Linked DNA regions of Homo sapiens: region 1 is linked to region 2. Evidence: fine-mapped expression QTL. A gene starts in region 2. The other region holds a variant in brackets. All regions are shown on one strand. Distances are from middle to middle.

The links.
Region 1: its variant is fine-mapped to the expression of STX12 in whole blood (TOPMed, PIP 0.98).

Annotation. Positions count from the first base shown.
Region 1 is chr1:27,152,748-27,169,294 of GRCh38, reverse strand. LOC102723760 (a long non-coding RNA gene) reads right to left here and starts at 11,734. Exons shown (of 3, transcript XR_426674.4): 1 at 11,669-11,734; 2 at 10,771-10,876; 3 at 8,827-9,006. SLC9A1 (solute carrier family 9 member A1) reads left to right here and starts at 14,170. Exons shown (of 12, transcript NM_003047.5): 1 at 14,170-15,312. The coding sequence starts at 14,961. RefSeq lists an enhancer at 12,776-13,275 and a silencer at 14,221-14,450. The variant A/G (reference allele first, on the strand shown) is at 8,987.
Region 2 is chr1:27,766,124-27,782,670 of GRCh38, reverse strand. It overlaps STX12 (syntaxin 12), which reads right to left and starts at 9,452. Exons shown (of 9, transcript NM_177424.3): 1 at 9,246-9,452. The coding sequence starts at 9,363. RefSeq lists enhancers at 8,615-9,115, 9,313-9,462, 9,116-9,616, 9,583-9,732 and a silencer at 8,993-9,202.

The DNA of each region.
Region 1 (16,547 bases), 610 kb after region 2:
ATTTAAAACAGTTAAAAGGACACGATGAGATTTATATGTATCAGCATGGCTTGATGTTATAAATATAATGTGTGAAAAAGTAAAGATGAAGAAGAATGTGTATGATATAATGTTATTGATATACATTTTAAGGGCACACAAAAATACCATTGTTTATGTATGCACATGTCTTAATTAATTCATCTCACAAATTTTTTCCTGAATGTCTTATTATGTTCTAAGTGCTATTCTCAGGTCTGGGGATACAGCAGAGAATAGCAATAGCTAACAGTTATATAGGACTTACCAGGAGCCAGCCAGTCATTGTTTTATTTTATTTTATTTTATTTTTTTTAGACAGAGTCTCATTTTGTTGCCTAGGCTGGAGTGCAGTAGCATGATCTTGACTCACTGCAAACTCTACCTCCCAGGCTCAAGCAATCCTTCTGCCCCAGCCTCCTGAGTAGCTGGGACCACAGGTGTACACCACCACACTTGGCTAATTTTTTCTGTTTTTAGTAGAGATGGGGTTTCACCATGTTGCCCAGGCTGGTCTTGAACTCCTGAGTCCAAGCGATCTGCCTGCTTTGGCCTCCCAAAATGCTGGGATTACAGACAGGAGCCACTGTGCCCAGCCATTCATAAATAATAATAATTGCAGCAAGCACTTATGTAGGTACAATTCCAAACAGTTTACAGTTTACATTCATTAACTCATTTAATCCTTACAATATCCTTACAATATAGGTTCTACTATTATCCTCTTTTTTTTTTTTTTTTTTTTTAGAGACAGTCTTGCTCTGTTTCCCAGGCTGGAGTACAGTGGCACGATCTTGGCTGACTGCAACCTCTGCCTCCCAAGTTCAAGCAATTCTCCTGCCTCAGCCTCCCGAGTAGCTGGGACTACAGGCGCACACCACCACACCCGGCTATTTTTTTTTTTTTTTTTTTTCATATTTTGGTAGATATGGGGTTTCACCATGTTGCCCAGGCTGGTCTCGAACTTCTGAGCTCAAGCAATCCTCCCGCCTCAGCCTCCCAAAGTGCTAGGATTACAGACATGAGCCACCACGCCCAACCCCCTTACCCCATCTTTTAGATTAAGACACTGGGGTGCAGTGAAGTTAAATAACTTGCCAAAGGTCACATGACTAGACAGTGGTAGAGGCTGGAGACAGTGGCTCATGCCTGTAATCTCAGCACTTTGGGAGGTCGAGGAAGGAAGACTGCTTGAGCTCAGGAGTTTTAGGCCAGCCTGGGCAACATAACAAGGTCTCATCTCTACAAAAAATAAAACATTAAGGCTGGGCGTGGTGGCTCACGCCTGTAATCCCAGCACTTTGGAAGGCCGAGGCAGGTGGATCACCTAAGGTCAGGAGTTTGAGACCAGCCTGGCCAACATGGTGAAACCCCGTTTCCACTAAAAATACAAAATTATCCAGGCCTGTAGTACCAGCAATTCGGGTGGCTGAGGCAGGAGGATTGCTTGAACCCAGGAGGTCAAGGATGCACTGAGCCATGATTGTGCCACTGCCCAGCCTGGGCAATAGAGTGAGACCTCTCAAAAAAAAAAAAAAGAAAGAAAGAAAAGAAAAGAAATGATAGTGGTAGAGACAGCATTCGAATCCATACAGTTTGGATCCAAGTTAGCCCTATTAATCATTATGCTCTACTGCCTCAAATTTCTGCCATTGAGGAGCTTACAGTCTAGTGGGTCAACACAGGCAATAGAAATATACAGTACAGCCGGGCACGGTGGCTCACGCCTGTAATCCCACCACTTTGGGAGGCCGAGGCGGGTGGATCACCTGAGGTTGGGAGTTCGAGACCAGGCTTGGCCAACATGGTGAAACTCCTGTCTCTACTAAAAATATAAAAATTAGCCGGGCATGGTGGCGCACGCCTATAATCCTGGCTACTCGGGAGGCTGAGGCAGGAGAATCGCTTGAATCTGGGAGGTGGAGGTTGCAGTGAGCCAAGGTTAAGCCACTGCACTCCAACCTAGGCAACAGAGCGAGACTCCATCTCAAAAAAAAAATAGACTGGTCAGGGAATGCCTCACTGAGAGACATTTGTGCAAAGATAGCAAGGAAGTGAAGGAGGAAACCATGTAGCTATCTGGGGGAAACAGTAAGCTCAAAGGCTCTGAAAGGGGTAAACCTGGAGTATTTAAGGAATAAATAGGAAGGAAGCCAGGGTGGTTAACGTGGAGAGAAAAGGGAAGAGGAAGGAATAAAGGAGAGGAGGCCAGAGAGAGAGGTGGGAGTAGACTGGGTGGGGCTTCGTAGGTCATAATAAGGACCCCGAGGTGGGGGTCTGGCAGGGGATGACACCATCTGACTTAGGCTTTTAAAGGGATCCTTCTGGCTGCTTTGTTGAAACAATAATCTGGGTGGGGAAAATGGCACTGCTTGGACCAGAGTGGGCAATGGAGGTGGTCAGAAATGGATGGATTCTGGAAATATTTTGAAGATTGAATTGACACTATTTGTGGAGGATTGATATGACAGAAAGGAGCCAAGGATGACTCAAGTTTTTGGCCAGAGTAAGTGGGAAGATGGAGAGGCTATCTCTTGGATGGGGAAGACAGTGGGAGAAGCAGGTTTGGGGAGGGGTTGGAAAGGTCTGGAGTTCAGTTTTGGACATGCTGATTTTGAGATGCCTGTTGCACGACCAGGTAAAAATGTTGAATGTTCAGTTGGATGCAGGAGTCTGGAGTTTACAGTAGGGAACTGGGCTAGAGATAGAAATCTATGAGTTGTCCTCATATAGATGGGGCTTGAAATCATGAGAATAGATGAGGTCATCAGAGAAAAGAATGTAGACAGAGCAGTGAAAAGGCAAGAACCAAGCCCTGGGGCCCTCAGTATTTAGAGGTTGTGGCAGAGGGGGAAAAAGGAGAGAAGGAGGAGGAATCAACAAAGGGAAATTGAGAAGGAACAGCCAATGAAGTGGGAGGAAAGCCAGAAGGTTGCGGGGTCTCATAAGCTATTTGAAGAAAGTGTTCTCAGAAGGAGCAAGTGATTATATATGTTGAAGTCTGCTGATGGGGAAAGAAAGATGAGGATCGAGAAATGACCATATGATAGAACAACATGGAGGGTCACTGGCAACATTGACAAGGGCAGCTATTTATTTATGTATTTATATATTTATGTATTTATTTATTTATTGAGACAGAGTCTCACTCTGTCACCCAGGCTGGAGTGCAGTGGCACGATCTTGGTTCACTGCAATCTCCGCCTCCTGGATTCAAGCGATTCTCATGCCTCAGCCTCCAGAGTAGCTGGGATTACAGGTGCCTGCCACCACATCCAGCTAATTTTTGTATTTTTAGTAGAGACGGGGTTTCACTATGTTGGCCAGGCTGGTCTCGAGCTCCTGACTTCAGGTGATCCGCCCATCCTGGCTTTCCAAAGTGCTGGGATTACAGGCATGAGCCACTGCACCTGGCCTATTTTATTTATTTTATATATATATATATATATATATATTTTTTTTTTTTTTTTTTTTTTTTTTTAGAGATAGGAGTCTCCCTATTTGCCTAGGCTGGCCTCAAACTCCTGGGCTCAAGCGATCCTCCCACCTCAGTGTCCCAAAGTGCTGGGATTACCGGCATGAGCCACTGCACCTGGCCAAGAGCAGATTAGGGACAGCATATGAGAGGGCAAGCCCACGGATCAGTTGGAGACAATGGGAGAGAAAAACAATGCAGGCAATGTAGACAACTCTCTTAAGCATTTGGCAGTGCTGGGAGTGGGTGGGGGATGAAGAGATGTGTGTTAAAGTGTTAAGATAACACATTATACTTATGATAGATGTTGCCTGGGGCAGCAGGAAGGGAGAAAAGTGTAACTGATAGTTTAAAAGACTTTAAAATTTGATAAAAATTGTACAGATATCTGTAAAACACATCAAAAACGTACACACACACACATATAGGGCAGTTTTTTGTTTGTTTTTCGGTTTGTTTTTCTTTTTGTGATGGAGTCTCACTCTGACACCCAGGCTGGAGTGCAGTTGTGCGATCTCAGCTCACTGCAACCTCCACCTCCCAGGTTCAAGCAATTCTCATGTCTCAGCCTCCCGAGTAGCTGGGACTACAGGCAAGCACCACCACGCCTAGCTAATTTTTGTATTTTTAGTAGAGATGGAGTTTCAGCATGTTGGCCAAACTGGTCTTGAACTCCTGACCTCAGGTGATCTGTCTTCCTTGGCCTCCCAAAGTGCTGGGATTACAGGCGTGAGCCACAGCACCTGGCCAGTTTTTTTAGGAGATAGAGTCCTGCTATGTTGCCCAAGCTGGAGTGCAGTGGCATGATCATAGCTCACTGTAACCTTGAACTTCTGGGCTCTAAGTGATCCTCCCGCCTCAGCTTCCCAAGTAGTAGAGACTACAGGTGCATACCGCCATGCCTGGCTAATTTTGAAATTATTTTGCCAGGCACAGTGGCTCATGCCTGTAATCTCAGCACTTTGGGAGGCTGAGGCAGGAGGATTGCCTGAGTGCAGGAGCTTAAGATCAGCCTGGGCAACATAGCAAGACCTCATCTCTACTAAAAATAAAAATAAGAAAATTAGCTGGGCATGGTGGCATGCACCTGTAGTCTTAGTTACTCAGGAAGCTGGGGTGGGAGGATGGCTAGAGTCCAGGAGTTTGAGGCTACAGTGAGCTATAATCACACCACTACACTCTAGCCTGGGCGAGAGAGTGAGACCTTCTCAAAACACCACCACCACCACCAACAACAACAAATAAATAAATACATAAATTATTTTGTAGACACAGATTCTCCCTATGTTGCCTAGGCTGGTCTTGAACTCCTGGCCTCAAGTGATCCTCCCACCTCAGCCTTCTAAGGTGCTGGGATTACTGGAGTGAGCTACTGTGTCTGGCCAAAATATACATATATTATTGAAAGTAAATATAACAAACTGTTACAGCTGATAATTCTGAATTTGGATGTTTGCTATATTACCTTTATACTTTTAAATTTTCTTACAAATAATTAGGGGAAAAAAAGGTTTGTGGGCCAAATCGTGTGCAGGACTTTGAGTGCCATGCTGGGATGGGGTATGTGCCTGTCTAAACAGGGGATGAACATGGCTCAGACAGCTCTTCCTGAAAGCTGTGTAGGCTGAGGGTGGTGGCTCACGCCTGTAATCCCAGCACTTTGGGAGGCCGAGATGGGCAGATCACCTGAGGTCAGAAGTTCAAGACCAGCCTGATCAACATGGTGAAACCCCATCTCTACTAAAAATACAAAAAAATTAGCTGAGCGTGGTGGCAGGTGCTTGTTGTAATCCCAGCTACGCGGGAGGCTGAGACAGGAGAAGCCCTTGAACCCAAGAGGCGGAAGTTGCAGTGAGCAGTGAGCCGAGATTGTGCCACTGCAGCTGGGAGACAAGAGCAAAACTCCGTCTCAAAAAAAAAAAAAAAAAAGTCAATCCCGGACCCGTTCCCTCAGATCTGCTAAATCCTAACTTTTCCAGTACACACACACACACACACACACACACACACAGGATTCTGACAGTGTAGAATGGGGGCAAGTTTAGTGGAAGATGGTGGGTGAAGTTGATGGAGGTGCCTGTGGGACATCCAGTCAGTGAACATTAGGGTGTCAAGGTTGCCGATAGGTGTTTATCAAATCCATTATTGATTTTCCTCCAGCAGAAAGCACAGGGAGTTGCACATAGTAGGAACTCACTAAATGTTTATTGTAAAATTATGAACTTAGCTTAAAGGCAATTCGCTGGATCCTAAATTCCAACTCCTTACCAACCTCCGAACTCTCTTCTAGTTACCCAACATGTACATGCTTTTTCATGGTAGCTATCAGCCTGGAGAACTGGGAAAAGCCTGGACTTCAGAGTTAGGCAGACCTGCATCCAAACCTGGCTCCTCTTCTTCCCAGCTCTATGGCCTCAGACAAGCAATTCTCCTCTGGGAGTCTTGGTTTTCTCATGTGCAAATAATGCATTCTGTGATTCATTCACTCAGCAAATATTTATTGAGTACCAATATGCACTGGGCATTGTTCTACATGGTGGAGAAACAGTGATGGATGAGATAGACGTGGTCCCTGCCCTAGCTGAGCTCACATTCTGAAGGGAGAAAAATGCAGTAAAAAAAAAAAAAAAAAAAAAAGGTAATAGGCCGGGCGCGGTGGCTCACACCTGTAATCCTGGCACTTTGGGAGGCAGAGGCGGGTGGATCACGAGGTCAGGAGTTCGAGACCAGCCTGACCAACATGGTGAAACCCCGTCTCCACTAAAAATACAAAAATTAGGCCGGGTGCAGTGGCTCATGCCTGTAATCCCAGCACTTTGGGAGGCCGAGGCAGGTGGATTGCCTGAGGTCAGGAGTTCGAGACCAGCCTGGCCATGGTGAAACCCCGTCTTTATTAAAAATAAAAAAAAATTATCTGGGCATGGTGGCGGGTGCCTGTAATCCCAGCTACTAGGGAGGCTGAGGCGGGAGAATCACTTGAACCCAGGAGGCGGAGGTTGCAGTGAGCCAAGATTGCGCCATTGCACTCCAGCCTGGGCAACAAGAGCAAAACTCCGTCTCAAAAAAAAAAAAAAAAAAATTAGCTGGGCATGGTGGCGCACGCCTATAATCCCAGCTACTCAGGAGGCTGAAGCAGGAGAATTGCTTGAACCCAACAGGTGGAGGTTGCAGTGAGCCGAGATCATGCCATTGCACTCCAGCCTGGGTGACAGAGCAAGACTCTGTCTCAAAAAAAAAAAAAAAAGAATAAAAGTAACAAATAGGAGAATTATACTGTATGTGAGAAGGTGAAACATGCTATACAAAGAAGAAAAAAGGAGCAGGGGAAGGGGCTGGGTGGTAGTGGTGGTGGCCAGGCAGGGGAAGTGTCACTATTACATAGGATTATAACATAGTAGGCCATGTCAGGAAGCGAGATTCGCAGAAAGGCTTGAAGGAGGTCAGGTAACCAGCCATGTGGATATCTGGGGAAGAGTGTTCCAGGCAGAAGGAATAGCAAGTGCAAAGACCCTGAGGCAGAAGTGTGTCTGCCAGTGTTTGAGAAATAGAAGGAGGCAGTGGTGAAGTGAGTGCCGGGGAGACTGGAAGAAGGCTTTGCTGGGCTGTGACATTATGATGAAAGAAGGAGCGGCTGAGTACAATGGCTTACCCCTGTAATCCCAATACTTTGGGAGGCCCAGGCAAGAGAATCAATCAAGACCAGGGGTTTGAGACCAGCCTGGGCAATATAGTAAGACCCTATCCCTACCAAAAATATTTTTAAAAATTAGTCAGGTGTGGTGGCATGTACCTGTAGTCCAAGCTGCTCGGGAGGGCGAGGCTGGAGGATCGGTTGAGCCCAGGAGTTTGAGGTTGCTGTGAGCTATGATTGCACCATTGTACTCTAGCCTAGGTGACAGCAAGACTCTGTCTCAAAAAAAAAAAAAAACAAAAGAAGGAAATGAACCCAGTCACTGCGTGCTGACTGTGTACCAGGAACTATGCTTGACATACAGTGGCCTTTTCATCCTTACAATAAACCTTACAAAGCAAGTAATGTGACTCCACCCAGCTTTCATATACATGAACACAGCGAGAGACAGAAACAAGGTGTGACTTGCTCATAATGCGCAGCTAATAGGGGCTGAGCAGATTCTTTCCTAGGGCCATGCATTTTGTGCCATAAAACTCCAGGCACTTTTAGTGAAAGGATTCAAGGAGGGGATTGGGGAGCAGACATGGCTTAAGCAGGGGGAGATGCCACCCAGGGTCCAGGCTTCCTGAGGCTGTCCTGGATCTGCAGGGGAAGGGTCTGCAGAGACCTGGCCTCTCCGAGTCAAAAGCAGTGTGGGCCTGGAATGGTTAAAAAATGAGGACTTGGCCGGGTGTGGTAGCTCACGCCTGTAATCCCAGCACTTTTAGAGGCCGAAGCAGGTGGATCACCTGAGGTCAAGAGTTCGAGACCAGCCTGGCCAACATGGTGAAACCCTGTGTCTACAAAAAATACAAAAAATTAACTGGGCATGGTGGCAGGCGCCTGTAATCCCAGCTACTCGGGAGGCTGAGGCAGCAGAATCGCTTGAACCCAGGAGGCAGAGGTTGTAGTGAGCTGAGATCGCGCCATTGCACTGCAGCCTGGGCAACAAGAGTGAAACTCCATCTTAAAAAAACAAAAAACAAAAAACAAAAAATGACTTGCTCAAACATGGTTACAAATATTGCTATGTATTTTAACTGATTTTTTTTTTTCTTTTTTGAGATGAGAGTCTTGCTCTGTCGCCCAGGCTGGAGTGCAGTGGCGCGATCTCAGCTCACTGCAAGCTCCGCCTCCCGGGTTCACGCCATTCTCCTGCCTCAGCCTCCCGAGTAGCTGGGACTACAGGCGCCCGCCACCACGCCCGGCTAATTTTATGTATTTTTAGTAGAGACGGGGTTTCACCGTGTTAGCCAGAATGGTCTTGATCTCCTGACCTCGTGATCCGCCCACCTCAGCCTCCCAAAGTGCTGGGATTACAGGCGTGAGCCACCGCGCCTGGCCTTGACTGATTATTTTTAAGAAGACAAGGCTTTTAAGGCCGAAGCGGGCGGATCACGAGGTCAGGAGATCGAGACTATCCTGGCTAACACGGTGAAACCCCATCTCTACTAAAAATACAAAAAATTAGCCGGGCGTGGTGGCAGGTGCCTGTAGTCCCAGCTACTCGGGAGGCTGAGGCAGGAGAATGGCGTGAACCCGGGAGGCGGAGCTTGCAGTGAGCTGAGATTGCACCACTGAACTACAGCCAGGTCGACAGAGCGAGACTCAGTCTCAAAAAAAAAAAAAAAAAAAAAGAAGAGGAAGAAGAAGATAAGGCTTTTAACATACAATACACATCAATGTGATTTATTTACAAATATTAAATTCATAGCAGCTGGTCTGATGGTGGGACCCATCTCACGGATGTGAGGGTCTGTTTTCCAGCCTGTCAATTTTCTCTGTGACTGAAGGCAGAACTTCATGTGGTTCCCAACATC[A/G]AAAGTCTACTCTTGAGGTCCTCGGTGCATGTAAATAAATAGAATGATGGTAAATATATGTGGTACTTGCTGGGGGCAGTGGTAAATGCTTCGCATACATTGGCTAATATCTTCATGAGAGCCCCATGAGGTTGACACTATTGTTGTCCCCCCTTATGGAGGAAGAAGCTGTAGAACAGGCACTGATTTGCCCAGGGTCTCATGACTAGTGAGCGGTGGTGCCAGAGCACTGAAAGGAGACCATGTGGCTACCCATGTTCGGCAGTCCCAGCATTTAACTATCCATTATTCTACACTGCCTGCCCAGGCTGGGCCTTGGCCATCGGCTCTCCCATGTGGTTTCTCCCAAGGCCTGTTTCCTGATATTGTTCTGTTGTTATAACCTTCTCCAGGCCGTGGAGGATCTCAGGGCTGGCATTTCCTGGTTGTCCTGGGATCTACCACGTCCCAGACTGGCACCCAAAGACTCACTGAGGCCTGAGTGAGGGAGAATTAGAGAGTGGGGAGCACACCAGTGAACGTTGCCTTCAAGACTGGAAAGAACAGTAGGTCTTGGGCTTCTGGCCCCAGGGCACCTGTGGAAAGTCACTCCACCAGCCCCATCCTTTCCCTCTTTTCTTCTTTTTACACTGAACCTGTGATGTTTTAAAAGGGTGCTGGACTTAGGTGTTAGAAACCTGACTTAAGTCTTGGATCTGCTTCTTTTTTTAAATTTTAATTTAATTTTATTGGCTCACTGCAACCTCTGCCTCCCAGGTTCAAGTGATTCTCCTGCCTCAACCTCCTGAGTAGCTGGGATTACAGGTGCCTGCCACCACGCCCAGCTAATTTTTGTATTTTCAGTAGAGATGGGGTTTCACCATGTTGCCCAGGCTGGTCTTGAACCTCTGACTTCAAATGATCTGCCCGGCTCGGCCTCCTAAAGTGCTGGGATTACAGGTGTAAGCCACTGTGCCAGGCATGGATCTGCATCTTAATAGATGTGTGACCTTGGGCAAATAGCTTTATGTCTCTGGGCCTTTGTCTTTTCACCTGTAAAATGGGAATGAGAATAATAGCTACTCTTTGGCCAGATGCGGTGACTCACGCCTGTAATCCTAGCACTTTGGGAGGCCAAGGCAGGTGGATTACCTGAAGTCAGGAGTTCCTGACCAGCCTGGTCAACGTGGTGAAACCCCATCTCTACCAAAAATATAAAAATTAGCTGGGTGTGGTAGCAGCCGCTTGTAATCCCAGGTACTCGGGAGGCTGAGGCAGGAGAATCACTTGAACCTGAGAGGTGGAGATTGCAAGTGAGCCAAGATCGCCACTGCACTCCAGCCTGGGTGACAAGAGTGAAACTCTGTCTCAAAAGAAAAAAATAGAATAATAGGTACTGTTTTTTCTGAGACAGGGTCTCACTCTGTCACCCAGGCTGGAGTGCAGTGGTGTGATCTCAGCTCACTGCAAGCTCTGCCTCCTGGGTTCAAGTGATTCTCGTGCCTCAGCCTCCCAAGTAGCTGGGACTACAGGCACATGCCACCACACCCAGCTAATTTTTGCATTTTTAGTAGATACGGGGTTTCGCTGTGTTGGCCAGGCTGGTCACAAACTCTTGACCTCAGGTGATCCACCTGCCTCGACCTCCCAAAGTGCTGGGGTTACAGGCATGAGCCACCGCACCCAGCCTAGCATTTGGATCATTGATAAACCTGGGGCACTTGGTTGTGAACTCTAAAGGGCTGAACAATTGTGAGGCATTATTGTTATTATTCTGATCCTTGCTCGAAATGCTCTTTGGTTACTTTCATTATAGCTGATGTTCTCCTTTCATCTGCTCCCAGATGACACAAGTCCCCTGCCCTTCTCTGAAGTCTCTTTTGTCATTTCCCAGGTGGCTGGAATTTGTGCCTGGAGAATGTGAGGTACAGAGAACTCAGTTTAGGCATGGGATTATAAAAAAAGAGAGAGAGAGAGAGAACTCAGTTTAATGTTGCCACCTTCAGTTACTATCATATCACTTTATTAATTATTTTATTTTTATATTCATTTATTTATTTTGAGACAGAGTCTCCCTCTGTCACCCAGGGTGGAGTGCAGTGGCACAATCTCAGCTCACTGCAACCTCCGTCTCCTGGGTTCAGGGGATTCTCCCACCTCAGCCTCCCAAGTAGCTGGGACTATAGGTATGCTCCACCACGCCCAGCTAATTTTTGTATTTTTTGGTAGAGACAGGGTTTTGCCATGTTAGCCAGGCTGGTCTTGAACTCCTGACCTCAAGTGATCTGCCTGCCTCAGCCTCCCACAGTGCTGGAATTACAGGCGTGAACCACTGTGCCTGGCCTAATTAATTTTTAGAGATGGGTCTCACTATGTTTCCCAGGCTGGAGTGCAGTGGCTATTTCACAAGCACAATCATAGTGCATTACAGCCTCAAATTCCTGGGTTCAAGTGATTCTTCTGCCTCAGCCTCCCAAGTAGCTGGGACTACAGGTGCATGCCACTGCACCTGGATATTATTATTTTATTTTACTTATTTTTTTTAAAGACAGGGTCTCCCTATGTTGCCTAGGTTGGTCTTAAACTCCTGGCCTCAACTGATACTCCCATCTCAGGCTCCTGAGTTGCGGGGATTACAGGCATGAGCCACTGCTGCTAGCTTATTATTATTTTAATATATTTTTCCATGGAAGGATAGCATACCTAGAAAAAGGTGCACACATCTTGAGTCTTCAGTGAGTTATCACGAAACAACTACGTCGCTGTAACCTTTGTAGCTATCACCCAGTAAAGAAATAGAACATTACCAGCATTCTAGAAGCCCTCATTATGTCCACTTTATGCCCCCTCCCAATTCCTACCACCTCCTTCCTCCCTCTGGCTTATCTCTGTGTTGCCAGAGCCCAGCACAAAGCCCTGTCAAGAGGCCCAGTAAACATTTGTTAAACTAAATTGAATCTCAAGTACTTGTGATGTGACCTTGAGCTAGACACTTTGACTGTTTTGGCCTTAATGTACTCTTCTGCAAAACAGGGACAGCATTTCAGTGATTTCTATACCTCCCAACCCTAGTTGTATATCAGAGCCTTTGAAAAAAATACTTTGGCACTACCCTGAAGTAATTGAATCTAAATCTCTGACGGTGGGTCCCCGAAAATGATATTTTACAAAAGATGATGATGATGATGATTACTATGATTGACAGGGTCTCCCTTTGTTGCCCAGGCTAGAGTGCTGTGGTGGATCATAGTTCACTGTAGTCTCAAACTCCTAGGTTCAAATGATACTCCTGCCTCAGCCTCCCAAGCAGCTAGGACTACCAAGCACAGCTAATTTTATCAGACAATGGTATTTATTTTTATTTATTTATTTTTTTTTGAGACAGAGTCTCGCTCTGTTGCCCAGGCTGGAGTACAGTGGTGCAATCTTGACTTACTGCAACCTCCGCCTCCTGGGTTCAAGTGATTCTCTTGCCTCAGCCTCCTGACTAGCTGGGATTACAGGCATGTGCCACCACGCCCGGCTAATTTTTTTTTTTTTTTTTTTTTTTTGAGACGGAGTCTCGTTCTGTCGCCCAGGCGGGAGTGCTGTGGCGCGATCTCCGCTCACTGCAAGCTCCGCCTTCCGGGTTCACGCCATTCTCCTGCCTCAGCCTCCCGAGTAGCTGGGACTACAGGCGCCCGCCACTGCGCCCGGCTAATTTTTTGTATTTTTAGTAGAGACCGGGTTTCACCGTGGTCTCGATCTCCTGACCTCGTGATCCGCCCGCCTCGGCCTCCCAAAGTGCTGGGATTACAGGCGTCAGCCACTACGCCCGGCCTAGACAATGGTATTTTAAAAAAGCTTTCCAGTGATTCCATTGTACAGCCATGATCCCTTGAACCTCACCAATTTCAACCAAACTATAGGTTCAAATTTAAGTTCCACTACTTAAAGCATGCCACTGTTGTGGGTTGAATTGTGTCCCGGCAAAAGAAGTTGAAGTCCTAATGCCCAGTGCCTATGAAGATGGACTAATTAGGATGCAGTCTTTGAAGATGTTCAGGTTAAGATGAGGTAATTACGTTGGATTTCTAATCCAATGACTGGTGTCCTTATAAAAAGGGGAAATCTGGCTGGGGGTTGTGGCTTACCCCTGTAATCCCAGCACTTTGGGAGGCCGAGGCGGGTGGATCACCTGAGGTCAGGAGTTCGAGACCAGCCTGACCAACATGGTGAAACCCCATCTCTACTAAAAATACAAAAATTAGCTGGACGTGGTGGTGGGTGCCAGTAATCCCAGCTACTCTGGAGGCTGAGGCAGGAGAATCGCTTGAATCCAGGAGGCAGAGGTTGCATTGAGCTGAGATGGCGCCACCGCACTCCAGCCTGGGCAACAAGAGCCAGACTCTATCTCAAAAAAAATAAAAATAAAAATAAAGTGTGGGCGGGGAATCTGGACGCAGAGACAGAGACACCAGGAGAACTCCATGGAATACCAGATAGTCCTAACAAACCACTGGAAGGTAGGAGAAAGGCATGGGACAGATTCTCCCTCATAGCTCTCAGCTGAAACCAACCCTGCCAACACCTAGATCCGACCTCCAGCCTCCAGAACTGTGAGACAATCAATTTCTGTTGTTGCAGCCACCCAGTTTGGGGTGATACTTTGTTACGGCAGCCCTAGTAAGCAATACAACTACTTGCATAGTAGCCAGGGGACTCTCTTCACCTGTTTCCTCATCTGTAAAAGTGGAATTGTAATAATGTGCCAGGGTGCATTCCAAATAGTTTACACGGATTGTCTCAGTCATTACATCATCCCTCTGACATAGTCACTATTACTGTCTCTACTTAACAGATGAGAAAGTTGTGAAACAGGTTAAGTAACTTGCTCAAGGTCACACGGTAACTAAATACATAAACTAATAATACATTCTTCACAGGATTATTCGAAAGCCCTTATGAGACTGCAGATGTGGACGTGAAATCGTTTTGTAAGTAGTCGGCATTTTACTCGCGTTAGTGAGGTTCTCTGTATATTCAGGACTTTTTTTTTTTTTTTTTTTTGTCATCTCTGACTCTCCTTCCTCTTCCTACGCGATACTTCTTTCCCTCGGCGACAGGGGCCGCTGCGCTGGGCGGGTGCCGACGGTCTCTCTAGCCCGCCGCACCGGCTGCTCGCTGGTGCCTATAAGTGACAGCGCCGGGCTCAGCTAGGCTTCAGTCTGCTGCCGCCGGGGCCGGGGCTAGGGTTAGTTCTGGAGCTGGACCAGGAGGAGCTGCAGCTGGGCCGGGGCGGAGCGCCGCGTCGCGCCAGGGCCGCGAGGAGGGGCGTGTTGCTGCTGGCCCACCGCGAGCCGCCCCCAGCCCGCGCCGAGGCGCCTTCCCGCCAGGCCGCCTGCCTTCCGCCTCTTTCCATTTCCCCGGAATCTCAGCCCGGCGCGCCTGGACCCCTGCCCCTCTCTGGGTGGAGAAGCTCCCGGCCGCTTCCCGGTTTCACTCCTTCTCAGCCTGGGCTCCCAGCCCCCTCTCTCCTTTTCCTGGACTGGCTCTCACCCCCTTCGGTCCCCTTCCTTTAGCTCAGGCTCCCTACCCCTTCCTTTAGCCCACAGCCCAGAGTCCCAGCTCCTCAGTCACTTTCCTCAGCCAAAGGTCCCAGCCTTCCTTCTTCCTTTCCTTTGCACTATCCCTATCCTGCCCCTTCCTCTATCCCTAGGGCTCAGTTTCCCACATCCGTCCTCCCCCTTCCCAGGCCCGGAGTTCCAGACCTTTTGGTCTCCTTTCGTGGTCGTTCCTGGGTCCTTGCCCCCTTTCCCCACTTTGGAGTTCCAGATTGCAAACCCAGCCTCCCTCCACCCCCAGAAAATTGCTTCCATGGAAATGCCTCTCTAAAACATGAACTTTTCCTAGAGACTACGCCAGTCTCTCTTCCCACTTGCTGACCCTTTGCTACCTATGTGCCCGGTTTTACTCTCATTTGGGTAAGGTCGAGGCTGGCTCTGGAAGCAGCACCATGGTTCTGCGGTCTGGCATCTGTGGCCTCTCTCCACATCGGATCTTCCCTTCCTTACTCGTGGTGGTTGCTTTGGTGGGGCTGCTGCCTGTTCTCAGGAGCCATGGCCTCCAGCTCAGCCCAACTGCCAGCACCATTCGAAGCTCAGAGCCACCACGAGAACGCTCGATTGGGGATGTCACCACCGCTCCACCGGAGGTCACCCCAGAGAGCCGCCCTGTTAATCATTCCGTCACTGATCATGGCATGAAGCCGCGCAAGGCCTTTCCAGTCCTGGGCATCGACTACACACACGTGCGCACCCCCTTCGAGATCTCCCTCTGGATCCTTCTGGCCTGCCTCATGAAGATAGGTAAGTCCCGTTTGCTCCGATGCTGCGGCCGCCACCAGACTGGTGAGCTTCTTGCCTCATCTCGCACCATTTGAGGCTGTCCAGGAGTAAGGATCTGAACTACCCCCATAAAGTAGGCAGTCTCCATCCTGCCACCTTGGTCCTTCTCAGGCTCCAGTTCTGTGGCTTCTGATCTGTGATCTGAGGCTTCCCAAGATTGGAGCCAGCACTGTGCACAGAAGAGAGCAGGATTAGAGAATGGGATGCCTCTGATCCTAGGTCCCTTCAGTAAGGCTTCCACGACTGGCAAGTCTCCTCTGGCTGGGCCAGACCCCCAGGGGAGCCAGGCACCCCGCTGTGTGTGAGACAGAAAGGAGTGTCTTCTGGCGAGTGGCACATTCTGCTCTGTCAACAGCAACCAGTGCAATTTATGACAGGCTTCACTGGAGCGTGTTCCAGGATGGAGTATATTTCTACTTGGCCTGCTTGAGGAGTTTAAGCATAGTGGAGACCTGGGCACAGGAAACTTACAAGTGTGGTGGAACACAGGGGATCCCCATATTCCCACCTTTCCTTCATCTCCAGAATGTTATCTGTCAGCTTTGCTTGTCCAGGCTAGTTAGGAGCCCCTGAGTCAATTTCCGGCCCAGGAATGCCATACTTTATAGAATCTGTGGGACAAGGGGCCCTGGAAATTTCTGAAGTCTGTTTTGGAAGTGGAGGGAGAGTAGAGGAGGTTGAGGCTTGGTCTGACCCCAGCTCACCCCCAGGTCGCTGCCTGGCTGTGTCTCAGGGTGCTGTCTGGCCTGCTGCTCAATCAAGTAGATGAGGTAGATGGGGGAGCCTAGGGATGTTCAGGCCTGAAGAGACTTTGAAACCTTCTTTTGGGGAGAAGGAAACAGACAACTTATTTGCTCTCAGAGTATTGGTCTCCCTGCTAGGCCTGAGCACTCTGTTCTGCTGAGTGATTGGGGGAGCTTACTGGAGCCTACATTGCCCAGAAGTCCCTGAAAGTGGTGTTCAGGGGGACTTTGACAACTGCCTTTGCATTTTCAGCTTGCCCCCAGCTGGCTGTGGAAGGCATGAGGTCCTGGGACTCTGCTGTCCCCTCTGCCTGAGATTTGGGTTTGGGAATTTGGCAGGAAACCTTCCAGCTCTCCCAAGGACATGCAGGAGCTGAGCGGTGCTGCCGGGCTGGTGTGAGGCAGGCTCTGGGACATGCAGCGGGAGGGAAGTGGTGCCTCTAATTTGACAGA
Region 2 (16,547 bases):
AAACAGGGTTTCACCATGTTAGCGAGGCTGGTCTCGAACTCCTGACCTGAGGCGATCTGCCCACCCTGCCCTCCCAAAGTGCTGGAATTACAGGTGTGAGTCACCGTGTCCATCAACCTGACTTTAAAAAATAGCCACTGTACCATAACAGTAAAGTTCTAGACTAAAGTGAAAATGGATACTAAATATCAAAGGTATAATTTTCCTTTAACCATACCAGTTTCAGAATATGCAATGGTTAAGAGCATAGCTCTGAATTAAGACCGCCTATATGGCCAGGCATGGTGGTTCAAGTTTGTAACCCCAGCACTTTGGGAGGCCAAGGTGGGAGGATCACTTGAACCCAGGAGTTTGACACCAGCCTGGGCAACAAAGTGAGCCCGTCTCTACAAAAAATTAAAAAATTACTTGGACGTGGTGGTGCGTGCCTGTAGTCCTAGCTACTCGGAAGGTGGAGGTGGGGGGATCCCTTGAGTTCAAGGTTGCAGTGACCTATGACGGTACCACTGTACTACTGGCACATCCTGGGTGACAGAGCAAGACCCTTTCTCAAAACAACAAAAAACAAAAAACCACTGCTTATGCCTATGCTTGTCGTGGTCCCGCTACTTCCAAGCAAAGTGATCTTGAGTAAAAGGCTCCACTCCTCTATGCCTTAGTTTCTTTGCCTTAAAAATGAGAATAAGAGAATCTTCATATGGTTGTTGTGAGGATGAAATGAGATGATACGAAGCTAAATTTAGAACAATGGCACATAAAAGCACTCAATTAAAGATAGCTATTATTATCAAACTCAAGACCAAGAAAAATGTACTTAGCAGTAATAAAATCAATTAAGTACATATTGAATGCCAACTATATATGCATTGTTGTTCCAGGCACTGTGACTAAAGACAAATGTATAATGCATGGTCTCCACAAAACTAACAGTGATCTCTCTGCTTGGGGTGACAATATCAAAAAGCTTGAATTAATTAAAGAATATATAATATAAGTGCGTGCTAAACTGTGAGGGAAAATTGCTTGTATTATAAATTCAAAGGAAATACACCAAAATGAGAGCTAACATTTCTTAAGCACTTACTATGTAGCAGGGACTGTAGATGAATTATCTCATTTAATCATCACAACCCTATGAAATAGGTATTATTAACTCCATTTTAACAATAAGGAAACTGAGAAATAGGTAAAGCAATGTGTTTACACAGCTAGTAAGAAGCAGATCTAGGATTCAAATCCTGGCAATATGACTCCTGAGCCTGCCTACCTAACTATTAAACTATTGCAGGGCAAGGGATTCAACAAGTATTAATAATGTCACCACTGGGGCTGGTCGTGGTGGCTCACACCTATAATCCCAGCACTTTGGGAGGCTGCAGTGGGCAAATCGCCTGACGTCAGGAGTTCGAGACCAGCTTGGTCAACATGGTGAAACCCTGTCTCTACTAAAAATACAAAAATTAGCTGGGCGTGGTGGCATGAGCCTGTAATCCCAGCTACTCAGGAGGCTGAGGCATGAGAATTGCTTAACCCCGGGAGGCAGAGGTTGCAGTGAGCTGAGATTGCGCCACTGTACTCCAGCCTGAGTGACAGAGCAAGACTCCATCTCAAAATAATAAAAATAATAATAATGTCACCATTTATTGAACGCCTGCTATGTGCCAGGCAGGCAGTATACCAGACACTTTCAAACATCCCCCCTTTTTTTTTTTGAGACAGGGTCTCACTCTGTCACCCAGACTGGAGTGCAGTGACGTGATCTCGGCTCACTGCTACCTCTGCTTCCCAGGCTCAAGCGATCAGCGATTTGCCCATCTCAGCCTCCCAAGTAGCTGGGACTACAGGTGTGTGCCACCACACCCAGCTAATTTTTGTATTTTTGGTAGAGCCAGGGTTTCGCCAAGTTGCCCAGGCTGGTCTCAAATTTCTGAGCTCAAGAGATCCACTCGCCTCAGCCTCCCCAAGTGCTGGGATTACAGGTGTGAGCCACTGTGCCCAGCCTCAAACATCCCCTTTTAATAATTTCACTCATTTTATAAATGGGGTTACACACGGCAGGGAAAATAACCTGCTCGAGGTTAATACATGGAAGGGGAGGGATTCAGTCACAGATCTGCTGACCCCGGAGAGTCCATGATCTTTCTGACTTCACTTTGTCTTTCAAAAGCAAAGGAAGGCTGGGCGCCTGTAATCCCAGCACTCTGGGAGGGCAAGGCAGGCAGATCACCTGAGGTCAGGAGTTCAAGACCAGCCTGGCCAACATGGTGAAACCCTGTCTCTACTAAAAATACAAAAATTAGTCGGGCATGTGGTGCACGCCTGTAATCCCAGCTACTGGGGAGGCTGAGGCAGGAGAATTGCTTGAATCTGGGAGGCGGAAGTTGCAATGAGCCTGATCGCCCCACTGCACTCCAGCCTGGGAAACAGAGCAAGACTCCGTCTCAAAAAAAAAAAAAAAAAACAAGCAAAGAAAAACTTAATTGCTATCAGCAGGACTTATGCACAACTGAGAGGATTTGTATAATTTAGATAGCCAATGAGGTAGGGAGAGAAAAGATACTAAAAAAAGGAGGAACCAAAGGGCGGACGCAGTGACTCATGCTTGTAATCCCAGCACTTTGGGAGGCCAAGGCGGGCGGATCACCTGAGGTCAGGAGTTCAAGACTAGCCTGACCAACATGGAGAAACCCTGTGTCTACTAAAAATACAAAATTAGCCGGGCGTGGTGGTACACGCCTGTAATCCCAGCTACTCGGGAGGCTGAGGCTGGAGGATCGCTTGAACCTGGGAGGCAGAGGTTGTGGTGAGCCGAGATCGCACCACTGCATTGCAGCCTGGGCTGTTAACAACAGCGAAACTCTCTTTCTCTAAAAAAAAAAAGGAGGAACCAAATGAGCAAAATATAAACTGAAAGATAGAGTTGAGAAACATAAAGAAAATAGCCTTCCTAGCAAAGAGTAAGGAAGAGTAGAAAATATGGCTAATTTGGGTTAAGATCGCAGGGAGTGAAAGCAAGGTGAAATATTAAGATCTGATTCAGGCCAGGCACGGTGGCTCATGCCTGTAATCCCAGCACTTTCGGAGGCCGAGGCAGGTGGATCATCTGAGGTCAGGAGTTCGAGACCAGCCTGGCTAACATGGTGAAACCCTGTCTCTATAAAAATACAAAAATTAGCTGGGCGTGGTGGCAGGTCCTGTAATCCCAGCAACTCGGGAGGCTGAGGCAGGAGAACTGCTTGAACCCAGGAGGTGGATGTTACAGTGAGCCAAGATTGCGCCATGGCACTCCAGCCTGGGCGACAGAGTGAGACTTGGCTCAAAAAAAAACAAAAAAAAACAAAAACAAAAAAAACCATCTGATTCAATAGACAACAGAGAGCCACTTTAGGCTCTTGAGGAAGTGAGCAGTATAATAAAAACAGGACTTTAGACATAGTGCTGATAGCACCATCAGTATAAACTAGAATGGGGCAAGACCATAATCAGAGACACTATGAATATGCTGTTGAAATACAGATGTTGAGCTGATGAATACTTAAGAGGATAGCAAAGAAACATAAAAAATAAGGGGCAAACATGAAAATAACTTTGAAAGTGGAACCCCAAGGATTTCATAATAATCAATTTTAAATGTTCAACTCTTCTTGCTTTGGGAGACTGAGGTGGGAGGATGGTTTGAGGTCAGGAATTCAAGACCAGCCTGGGCAACACAGCGAGACCCCCGTCTCTAAAAAACTTTTACAACTTGCCAGGCGCAGTGGCATATGCCTGTAGTCCTAGCTATTTGGGAGACTCAAGTAAGAGGATCGCTAAAGCCCAAGAGTTTGAGGTTACAGTGGACTACGATTGCACACTGCATTCCAGCCTGGGTGACAGAGTGAGACCTCCACTCTTCTTATTTTGTTAGTAAACAAGATCACATCAATTAGCAACATAAAGAACAGAAATGCTGTTCTTTTTTTTTTTTTTTTCCTGAGATGGAATCTCGCTCTGTTGCCCAGGCTGGAGTGCAGTGGAGCGATCTTGGTCTTGGTTTACTGCAACCTGCACCTCCCCAGTTCAGGCGATTCTCCTACCTCAGCCTCCCGAGCAGCTAGGACTACAGTCGCCTGCCATCACACCCGGCTTACTTTTTGATTTTTAGTAGAGGCAGGGTTTCGCCATGTTGGCCAGGCTGGTCTCGAATGCCTGACCTCAGGTGATCCGATCGCCTCGGCCTCCCAAAGTGCTGGGATTACAGGCGTGAGACACCTCGCCCAGTCAGAAATGCTGTTCTTTAATCCCTTCAGAGTTAACTTTGAGGCTAATAGGTTTTCAGCTATATCTGCCTCAGCAATACTTGCCCAGACACTTTGTTCCACAGTAAGTCAAATATTTTTCTTCTGTACCCAACACATACTGATAATCACCACTTGTACCAGGCAGTCAACCTTAGCTGTACCTGTAACAACCCACGCAGTGAGCTGCCTTATCTCAGGCTGATGTGCTCAGCAATTCCAACCCCACATCTGTGGCTGAACAGTTTAGAAAAAAGAATAACTATGCTCTCAGACTTTTAATGGGTACAAGTCCTTGCAGGGCTGTATGGGTGTGTGGGTAATATATATGTCTGAGAGCTCATATTCTAAGGGTATATTTGGGTGTGCTGGCCTCTTGGAGAGGTTTGGGGATAGGCACTAGCTTGATAACTGAGTAGATGCAACGTCATCCCATCAATTTCAGATTTCCCATTTCTCACCAAACAATTCCAAAGGAAGAATTTCTTTCTTTTTTCTTTTTTTTTTGAGACTGAGTCTCGCTCTGTCATCCAGGCCAGAGTGCAGTGGCGCAATCTCGGCTCACCGCAACCTCCGCCTCCCGGATTCAAGCAATTCTCCTGCCTCAGCCTCCCAAGTAGCTGGGATTACAGGCGTGCACCATCACGCCTGGCTAATTTTTTTGTATTTTTAGTAAAGACAGGGTTTCACCATATTGGCCAGGCTGGTCTCAAACTCCTGACCTTGTGATCCGCCTGCCTCAGCCTCCCAAAGTGCTGGGATTACAGGCGTGAGTCACCGTGTCCGGCCTGGAAGAATCTCAACTCACACTGCCTAGGGTCATAGGATATGGTATGTACTACACAGTACAAGGGGAAAGAGGCAGGAAGAGTTCCAAAATGGTAGAAATGCCTCATTCATTCAAATCAATTTGATACAATTTATTATGCATCAAGATCCTATATAATGTGATCCCTGGTTACCTCTCTGGCCTCTTTTCCTATTCTGCCTCCCTTTTCTAACGGTACTCCAGCCAAACTAGCCTCCTTGCTCTTCTTTGAACACATCAAAGTCCTTGCTCTTGCCCTCTACCTAGAATGCCTTTCCCAGCTACTCACACAGCTCTTGCTCATTTCATTCACATGTCTACTCACTCAAATGTCAGCTCCTCAGAGATGCCTTCCTTGATCAACTAAAATAATGCACCCACCCTCCCTCTTCCCTGACTCTCTACCCACTTACCCTGCTTTTTCTTCATAGCATTTATTATTACTTGACATTATTTATATGTGTATGTACGTATGTGTGTATACATACTCCCCCCGCACACAGAAACACACATATACACACAATCAGGGGAGGGATTTTATCTCTTGTTCTGCTTCACCCCAGCACACAGCAGGTGCTCCAGGAATATTTGTTGCATAGTGGATCAATGAATCTTTCATATGTTTGGGACTGAGATAAGTACTGGAAATATAAAGATGAATAAGTCATGTCCCTTGACTCAAAGGAGCTAACAATCTGGCAGAGGAGATGAACACACCACGAGAAGAGAAAGCACCACGGCTTCAGGTATTTCCCCCACAGAGTGTCCTCTGGAGAGTGAAAAAACAAGTTATTTGCATACTTGTAAACCTGAAGTGTTAACTGCTATAGCACTGTTATTGATTTATTTATTTTTAATTTATTTATTTAGAGACAAAGTATTGATCTGCCACCCAGGCTGCAGTACAGTGGCATAATCACAGCTCACTGCAGCCTCCAACTCCTGGGCTCAAGAGATTCTCCAGCCTCAGCCTCCTGAGTAGCTAGGACTACAGGCACATGCTACCATGTCTGGCTAATTTTTAACTTTTTTTTTGTAGAGATGGGGTCTCACTATGTTGTCCAGGCTAGTGTCAAACTCCTGGCCTCAAGTAATCCTCCCTCTTTGGCCTCCTAAAGTGCTGGGATTACAGGTGTGAGCCACTGAGCACAGCCCAGAACTGTAATATTAATAAAAAGTAATAAAAAGACAAATTGCTGGTCATAAGAGACCTAGTTTCAAATTCAGATATTGTCATTTGTTAGCAGGGCAACTATTTAACCTTTCTTAGTTTGTTTCCTAATACATAACATGGAAATGATACTGGTGCTTCAGAGTTGTTATAAAATAAGATAATGTATGTAAAGCACTTTTCATACTGCCTGGAACACAGTATGTACTCAAATGTTAGCTATTAATATTACTAACAGTTGACTTAAATGATCCCCTGAGGCCCAATGCCCAATCAATAGCTAAATCTTACCAATTCTATCACCAAGGAAACCTCTCCTATCCTTTCCTTTCTTTTCATTTTCACAGCCCTAACTGGTATCTCTGATTCCAGTCTCTCCCTTTGAATTCAATTCGCACTTTCCTAAATAACTAAATCCAAGCCCCTTAGCTTAGCATTTAACATCCTTCATGTTTGGGCCACAATTTACCTTTCAATCCTTTTTTCCCACTACTTTCTGGAATCCACCACTCTAGCCAAATTAAATTACTCTTCTAGATATACTCTATGCTTCCCCACTATGATGCCTGTTCATTTTATTCCCTCCTGGAATGCTCTTCTCCTCTTTACCTTCGAAGGTCCAAATCTTTCCATCCTCTTTCCAGACATAACTCAAATGCCATAATGCCTTCTCAATTAAAAACAATCTCTCTCTTCCCAGAATACCTGCATGTTATTTATATGTCTTCTATAGCACCAATCCCTTTCAACTTTATATTTTGGTTATGAACTCTGCAGGTTCCCTGTTGAAAGATCCATGCCAGTTCTTATACTTACTACATACTCAAATAAATATATGTTGAAGGCCAGGCATGATGATTCATGCCTGTAATCCTGGCCTATTCGGAGGCCAAGGTGGGTGGATCACTTGAGCACAGGAGTTCAAGACCAGACTGGACAACATGGTGAAACTCCATCTCTACAAAAAATATAAAAATTAGCCGGGCGTGGTGGTGCACACCTGTAGTCCCAGCTACTTGTAGGGCTGAGGCAGGAGGACTGCTTGAGCCAGGGAGGTTGAGGCTGCAGTGAGCTGAGATCATGCCACTGCATACCAGCCTGGGTGACAGAGTGAGACCCTGTCTCAAAATAAAAATTTAAATTTAAATTTAAAACTGTATGTCGGATCTACCTTTGGGAGTATTCTGGTTTTATATATATATAAAATACACACGAAGATGGATAGATGGATACATGTTGAATGAATATTTCGCAAATAGATATTAAAATTAGATTTAGCTTCAACAAGAAAATTTCAGCCTTGAACTAGAATTTTCTGATCTAACCTGTATTACAGCTCCTTCACAAAAGGAAACTGGAACAAACAGTACTATACTTTCTAACCAGTGGTCATATTAATTTTTTTTACTTCTGGATTTTAACAGGCCACATATTCTTCCTTTCACTTCCAGAGTCTCAATCCCTTTTGATCAGAAACTTTCTACTTCTCAAATTCTACAATATACATTTAGATTTAAAAGCAAAGTGAGCCTGGGCAACATAGTGAGACCCCATCCCTACAAAAAATTTAAAAATTAGCCTGGCACGGTAGATGCATCCTTGTAGTCCTTGCTACTCAGCAAGCTGATCAGGAATTCAAGGTTATAGTGAGCTAGGATTGTACCACTTCACTCAGATCACTGCATTCTGCCTGGGTGACAGAAGTAGACTCTGTCTCGAAAAAATAAATTAAAAATATTTTAAATCAAAAAAATTAGGCTAGGCACAGTGGCTCACGCCTGTAATCCCAGCACTTTGGGAGGCTAAAGTGGGAGAAGTGCTTGTGCCCAGGGGTTTGAGACCAGCCTGGCCAACATAGCAAGACTTCATCTCTACAAAAAAGAAAAATTTTTAAAAGTTTAAAAACGAAAGCAAAGTGACACTCTTTAAAATATAGAATATAATTGTAATTCAGGACTAACTAGTTCTACCTATTAACAGAGTACGCCAAGCTCACAAAACAATAATAAACAACAAGGATGATGACCACCATTCTTTCCAAGTAAAGCTGCTGCTGATCTCCTGTTTATAAGGCTCCAAGATGATTTTCAAGCACAAGAAACACCCTGTATTTGACTCATTCAGCTACAGTTTCACTCAGACCCTAATGGGGAGGAGGGAGTTTTAAGACAAGCAATAGCATTCTGAATTCCACCAACAACTCTACCATGCCTTACTTGCTATGTGGTTGTGGCTAAGTGTCTTAGCTTCCCTGTGTACCAGATTTGTTCAAGAGCAGCTAAGTAGGGAAGGAAAACAAAAGCCTCATCTGCCTGAAATCCAAAAATACACCCCAATTATTTGTTACAAAAGACAAAATAATGTAAATTGAAATGCTGTTGGTGAATTCTCTTTATTAAAATGAAGTCATCCCACCTTTCAAATACCAGTCATTGTGTCTGATTTCCGAATTCATTACAGGAAGAACTGTGTATGAAGTCACCCAAACACATGCACTCTCCACTTCCCTTAATTGAAAGTTGCTGATTTCCGAGGAGCCAGGGGCTGAGCAGAATGTAAACCTAAAGGCTAAATCAGTAAACAACCCCATCCAAACTGGTCTAAGAGGAAAGCGAGGTGGGTGGGGAGGAAGGTGGGTGACAGGAGAAACTCGGCTGACCACTGCGCCAAGTCAACGCACTCACAGCTCTCGAGGTGACACACACTCCCCTTCCCACCCTCGGGCTGTCAAGTCGGCTGTTTTGGTCCCAGCACCGTGGGGGCAGAACTCCAGAGAAGCAGCTCAAGCTTCAGCTGGGGCCGGGGACCCTCGGGCAACCCGGGCCTGACAGATTGGGGGATGGCAGCCCACCGCCCCCAGGGTGGACAGCCCGAGACAGCCCCAGGTGTGGCCTCGGCCGTAGCCCCAGCCGGGCCCTGCGTCCCGGCAGCCTCACCCAGGCCTGTCCCCGGGACAGCTCCCGCCCCCCAGCTCGGTACCCCGGCTCACTGGCTTGGCTGATCCGCTGGATGTTGCCGCTGCACGTCTGGATGATGCTGCTGAAGTCCCGGAGCTGGGGCCCCGAGGGCCCCGGGTTCCGGTACATGTCTAAGGGACCGTATGACATGACGAGGAGCTGAGACCTGCTCGCTCTACACCGCTCTCCTACCGGAAGCAGCCGCCAGCCGGGACCCGCAGGCTGACGGAGAAACTGGGAAGAGCAAGGGCGGGGAAGGAGCTAAGGCTGCGTGCGCACTAGCCCCGCCCTCACGCGGCGCGCACGCGTCCTCCCCGCCCCGGTCCAAAGTGCGCAGGCGCCGCTGGGACTGGAGCTGGGACTGGAGCTGGGACTGTAGCTTAGAGACAGGACTCCCCGAGGCTTGGGGATGCAGGGCGGGGAGATGACGTCACCTAGTTGGGGCTGAGATTGGATGAGCTTGGGTGGAGGTGTTGTTTCTCGCCAGGGCACAGTGACAAGAGGCAAGAATTTTCGATTTGCATAAAACTGTACCAGATGATCTCAGCCCTTACATCCTATTCTGTTCTGAGAATTCAGGCCCAAATATGGGAGAATTCAACGTTGAAACTCAGACCCGGAACCAAATCGTAACCCGAAATTCCTCTCTACTTCCATCCCCAGGGCTTTGGTAGTGTTTGGGGTTTCCAAACCACTTTCATTTCTCCCTCCACCCCTCTTCTAATCTAAACAATAAAATAATGTTTATTGAGCACATACTATGTGAATCCTCACCGCAATTCACTTGTTCATAAGATTTTTCACAGCAGGGGACGATGCTCTATCTATATTTTTATCATTAGAATAGATAACGGAGAGTCGGTTTTTTAAATGTTGAAGTAAAGTAATTCATCAAAGTAAGCATTATTATTTTCCCTCTTACCGATGAGAAAATTAAGACCAGCGAGGTTAGTTCGCCTTGCTGAAATTTGACTGCAAAACCCAAACGCTAAGCTGACTCTCTCCTCACCTCGCTACTTCTCTAAAATTCATTCTCGTCTAAATCTCTCCCAAATAGCTCGTTCATCTATATCCCAAGCCGGGATATCTTGGAGAACTAGATTCCTAAAATTTAAAAATCGTTCCCTTAAGTAATTTGGAATGCATGACCTCAATGTTCCCACAGAAAACTGCATTTTTGTAAGCCTATGTTAAAAGGAAAGACATAGGATTTTGGTTTGGGAGGAGATCAAGATAGTGAGAAGTGAAGGGGAACTGGCTGCGTTTCCTGTGTTCTACACCCCACCCCACCCCACCCCAGCCTGCTTTGTAGTCTTTGGAAAATGCAAAGACAGAAAGCTGCTTGCCTGGATGAAAGGAGACCCAAAGTGAATGAGCCTGTATATGGCCTTAGGATTTTTTCTTTATTTTATTTTTTTTGAGACAGGGTCCCGCTCTGTCACGCAGGTTGGAGTGCAGTGGCGCGATCTCTGCTCACTGCATCCTCCTTCTCCTGGGCTCAGGAGGTCCTACCACCTAACCTCTGAGTAGCTAGGATTACAGGCGTGCGCCACCACGCCCAGCTAATTTTTATATTTTTTGTAGTGTTGGGGTTTGGCCATGTTGTCCAGGCTGGTCTCAAACTCCTGGGCTCAAGCAATCCACCCACCAGCCTTAGGATTTTTTAAGGGTGACTATCTCTATTTTTCGTTGGAGAATTTATGAGAGCATTTTTTTTCCCTGTCTCTAGAAAGAGACGGATGACATTTGGGGACTCTTATTTTGGTTATTTTATTTTATTTTATTTTTGAGACAGAATCTTGCTCTGTTGCCCAGGCTGGAGTGCAATGGCGCAATCTCGGCTCAATGCAACCTCCGCCTCCTGGGTTCAAGCGATTCTCCTGCCTCAGCCTCCCGAGTAGCTGGGATTACAGGCGTGTACCACCACGCCCGGGTACTTTTTGTATTTTTAGTAGAGATGGGGTTTGACCATGTTGGCCAGGCTGGTCTCGAACTCCTGACCTCAGGTGATCCACCCGCCTCGGCTTCCCAAAGTGTTGGGATTACAGGCGTGAGCCACCGCACCCAGCCTGTTTTGGTTATTATTATAAAACCTTACCGTTTCTTAGAATCTGTAGTTTTATGTCAAATCTTAAGCAAGTCATGTAAATTGCACTTTTTTACCTATATAATAGTACTGATGATTTTTTTCATTTACATTTGACACTATTTAAAGTGAAGTTCAGTAAAGATATTTTTCTTTTAGGAATTAAAAATATTGTTTTCTTTCTCCATGTAAAATAAAAGTGGTTTTTAGGCTGGGCGCGGTGGCTCACAACTGGAATTCCAGCACTTTGGGAGGCTGAGGCAGGCTGATCATTGCTTGAGCTCAGGAGTTCGAGACCAGCCTGGGCAAAATGGCAAAACCCTATCTCTACCAAAAATACAAAAATTAGCTGGGCATAGTGGCCTGAGCCTGTAGTCCCAGCTACTCGGGAGGCTGAGGCAGGAGTGTAGCTTAAGCCAGGGAGGCAGAGGTTGCAGTGAGCATCTCTCATAGCAGTAAATCTGTGCCTTGCAAATACTGGATGTCAAACAAACATTTATTGAATTAACACATGAATAATAAAAATAATAATTTTATCATTGCTTAAATGCCTGTTAGGTGCCAGGCAGTATGAACACATTTTGTGTACGTTATCAGTAATCTCCAAGATAAAGCCCATCTGATAAAGACCACCTGTAGTCAGACAAAGTTAAGTTTATTAACTTGCTGCTGCAAGGGAAACTGCACACCAAAAGAATCATGGAGCATGTCACAAAACACAGGAAGACAGTGAGTTATTCCAGGATTTGGGGGAAAGAAATGTAGATAAATTTTTAAAGAAGCAGTGTTTTGATAGCCCCCAAACACACCAGGCTATGTGTAAAGGGATTATCATCAGGCCCCAGCTAACAAGATCCTGTTTCCTTGGAAACCATGATGCCAAGATAAATGTGGAATGTTGTGTCTGGAAACCCCTTATCTGAAGCTCTGCACCTGCGTTAGAAATTGAGGCTGCTCTTCTGCATCAAAGTAACTGATCCTCCAGGTAAGAGTGATATATTCCATTCTTACTGATAATTTGAGCAACAAATTTTCTAAAAATCTATGGCTTTAGAGAAAATGTCTCTCAGCTCTACATACTTTTGTTAATTAACGAAAGTAGTCTTCATGGGTTTGCACCCATCAAGGCGATATTAGCTCCTTGGTACGGATAAAGAAACTAGAGATTCTGGGTACTTGCCTAATGTCATACAGCTGTTAAGTGACAGAGCCAGGATTCCCATGCACCTTCTGACCCAGCAATTCTACTCCTAACTATATACCCAACTATGCGTGTTCCAAAAATCAGGTATAGTTCATAGGAGCATTTTTAGGACCAAGCAGCATTTTTCTATACTTATTTACTTTTTGTTTTTTTTTTTCGGAGACAGGCTGGAGTGCAGTGGCGTGATCTCGACTCACTGCAGCCTCAATCTCCCTGGCTCAAGCCATCTTCCTACCTCAGGCCTCCAAGTAGCTGGGACTACAGGCACGCACCACCACACCTGGCTAATTTTTGTATTTTTTTGTTGAGATGTGGTCTTGCCATGTTGCCCAGGCTGGTCTCAAACTCCTGGGCTCAAGCAATTCACCCACCTCGGCCTCCCAAAGTGCTGGGATTACAGGAGTGAGCTATGACACCCAGCCCTTACATTTAATTTTTATTGAGTTATAATTGATATACAATCGAATGCACAGATAGTAAGTGTTCAGCTCAATGGATTTTGACACTTGTACACATCCATGTAACTGCCACACCCAAATCAAGAGATAAAACATTTTTATCATCACCCCAGAAAGTTTCCTTGACTTATGCTCCTTTTTAATCCATTTCCCTCATCACTGGAAGTTACTTACTGATTTTTTTTTTTTTTTGAGATGGAGTCTCACTCTGTCGCCCAGGCTGGAGTGCAGTGGCACGATCTTGGCTCACTGCAACCTCCACCTCGTGATTCAAGCAATTCTCCTGCCTCATCCTCCCAAGTAGCTGTGAATATGGGCATGCGCCACCATGTCCAGCTAATTTGTTTTGTATTTTTAGTGGAGACAGGGTTTCACCATGTTAGTCAGGCTGGTCTCGAATGATCCACCCGCCTCGGCCTCTCAAATGATCCGCCTGGCTCAGCCTCTCAAAGTGCTGGGATTACAGGCATGAGCCACACTGCACCTGGACTTTACTTTCTGATTTTTGTCACTACAGATTAGCTTTGTCTGCTCTTGGACTTCATACTTTATATATTCTTTAGTGTTTGGCTTTTTTCAATTAACACAATGTTTTTGAGATTTATCCATGATGTCACATATATCAGTAGTTTGGTCTTTTTTTATTACTCATTAGTATTTCCTCATATAAATATACTTACAGTTTGATTATCCATTCTCTTATTGATGGATGTTTGCATTGTTTCCAATTTGGTGTTATTATGAAGTTCATAGCAGTATTTATTTTTACTAGTTCCAAACTGTAAACAACTCGAATATCCATCAACAGAGGTTTGTATAAACAGATATTATAAAGCACAAAAATAAATGGCCTACTGCTGTGTGAACAACATAGGTGACCTCTTCCCAACAATGCATAGCTAAAGAAGCCAGACACAAATTAGCTAGGCACAGTGGTGCACACCTGTAGTCCTAGCTACCTGAGAGATCAAGGTGAGAGGATCCTTGAGGCCAGGAGGTCAAGGCTGCAGTGAGCTATGATTGCACCACTGCACTCCAGCCTGGGCGACACAGCGAGACCCTGTCTCTTAAAAAAAAAAAAAAAAAAAAAAAAAAAAAGGAGAAGAGGAAGCTAGACATAAAATGAGTACAATCTGTATCATTTCATCTTTATTAAGTTCAAAACTGGCCAAATTAAATCTATGTTATTAAAAGTCAGAATAGGGCCAAGTGCAGTGGCTCATGTCTGCAATCCCAGCACTTTGGGAGGCCAAAAGGATGGATCACTTGAGCTCAGGAGATCAAGACTACCCTGGACAACATGGTGAAACCCTGTCTCTACAAAAAATACAAAAATTAGCTGGGCATGGTGGCACAGGCCTGTAATCCCAGCTACTCGGGAGGCTGAGGTGGGAGGATGGCTTGCACCCGGGAGGCAGAGGTTGCAATAAGCCAAGATCATGAAGTATCACTATTACTATCAGTATGGTGAGCTTCCTGGGGACTGGTAGGGAGGAGTTAATGGGGAAATTCACTTAGGTTGCAAATAATACTGTATTAAAATTAGCACTCATCATATATTGCTGGTGGGGATGCAAAATGGTACAGTCACTTTGGAAAATAGTTTTACAGTCTCGTATACAGTTAAGAATAAATTTACCATACAACCCAGCAATTCAGCAGCTCCACTGCTATATATTTACCCAAGAATAATAAAAACACATTTCTATTAAAAGACCTGTATGCAAATGTTTACGGCAGCTTTATTCGTAATAACCAAAAACTGGAAGCAGCTCAAGTGTCCATCAACTGCTGAAGAGATAAACTGTGGTACATCCATACAGTGGAAAACTATTCAGCTATAAAAAGAAACTACTGAGACATGGAATAAATTACTGAGACATGCAAAAACACGGATGAATCTCAAACACATACGCTAAGTGAAAAAAGTCAGACGTAAAAGGCCATATCCTATATGATTTTATTTATATGACATTCTCTTTTTTTTTTGAGATGGAGTTTCACTCTTGTCGCCCAGGCTGGAGTGCAATGGCATAATCTCGGCTCACGGCAACCTCTGCCTCCCAAGCTCAAGCGATTCTCCTGCCTCAGCCTCCCGAGTAGCTGGGATTACAGGCATGTGCCACCATGCCTGGCTCATTTTGTATTTTTAGTAGAGATGGGGTTTCGCCATGTTGGTCAGGCTGGTCTTCAACTCCTGGCCTCACGTGATCCGCCCACCTTGGCCTCCCAAAGTGCTGGGATTATAGGCGTGAGCCACCGCACCTGGCTACATGACATTCTTGAAAAGGCAAAGCTATAGGAATATAAATCAGATTAGTGGTTGCATAAAGGCTGGTGTGGAGGGAAGGGCACCAAAGGACTCAAGGGAACTTTTGGGGTTGATGAATATGTTCCATGTCTTGATTATGGTGGTGATTACACAGCTGCATATACTTGTCAAAACTCATTGTGCACTGAGGGTTATTTTTGTGTATGCCAATTTTATACACACACACAGAGACACACATACTTAAATGACACTCTAGAAATCAACGCAATAAAGTGGCATATATGAGGTGGGTAATGTGGAGTTGAAAAAGAGGTATAAAAGTTGTGGGTTGCAATAATGGTCTGACGGCCTAGAAGTGACATAGGACTAAAGTGACTTCGGAAGCAAAAAAACAAGTAAACATACATGTTCATTCTAATTTATGCCTCTATCACCTTCCTTCTTAGGAAACATAAAATGTTGATTCTGTAGAAGTCATAGATGATAATAGCTTACAAAATTGAGTGCATACTATGTACCAAGCACTGTTCTAAAGACTTCTACATGTAGCTGGGCATAGTGGCTTGAGCCTGTAGTCCCAGCTTCTCGAGAAGCTGAGGTAGGAAGATTGCTTGAGTCTAAGAGTTCGAGGCTGCAGTGAACTGTGATCACGCCACTGCTCTCTAGTTTGAGCAACAGGGTGAGATCTGAGTCTTTTTTTTTTTTTTTTTTTGAGACAGAGTCTCCCTCTGTCACCAGGCTGGAGTGCAGTGGTGCGATCTGGGCTCACTGCAACCTCCGACTCTCTGGTTCAAGCGATTCTCCTGCCTCAGGTTCCTGAGTAGCTGGGATCACAGGCACATGCCACCACGTCCAGCTAATTTTTGTATTTTTAGTAGAGATGGGGTTTCACCATGTTGGCCAGGATGGTCTCAATCTCCTGACCTCGTGATCCGCCTGCCTCAGCCTCCTAAAGTGCTGGGATTACAGGCGTGAAACGCCGTGCCTGGCTGAGATCTGATTCTGAAAAAAAAAAAAAAAAAAAAGACTTCTATATGTGTTATTTAATCCTCACAACAACTCTAAGGTAAGTAGAGACAGGAAGTCTCTACTTCAGGCAGCCTGACATCATAGCACCACACAGTCTCACTTTTCAAATAGGGTTGATAATTTGCTGGAAGTACAGCCTGGCAAGCCCTGGTAGTTGGAGAAGTCATGGATTCCAGTAATAGCTAAGAAGTATGAACTACTTTCCCCCAAAAGGTAATTTTTATTGCTATCTTCAAAATCCAGAGGTTCACACAGTCGTTACTTGATCCTATTGGCCAAAAGTCA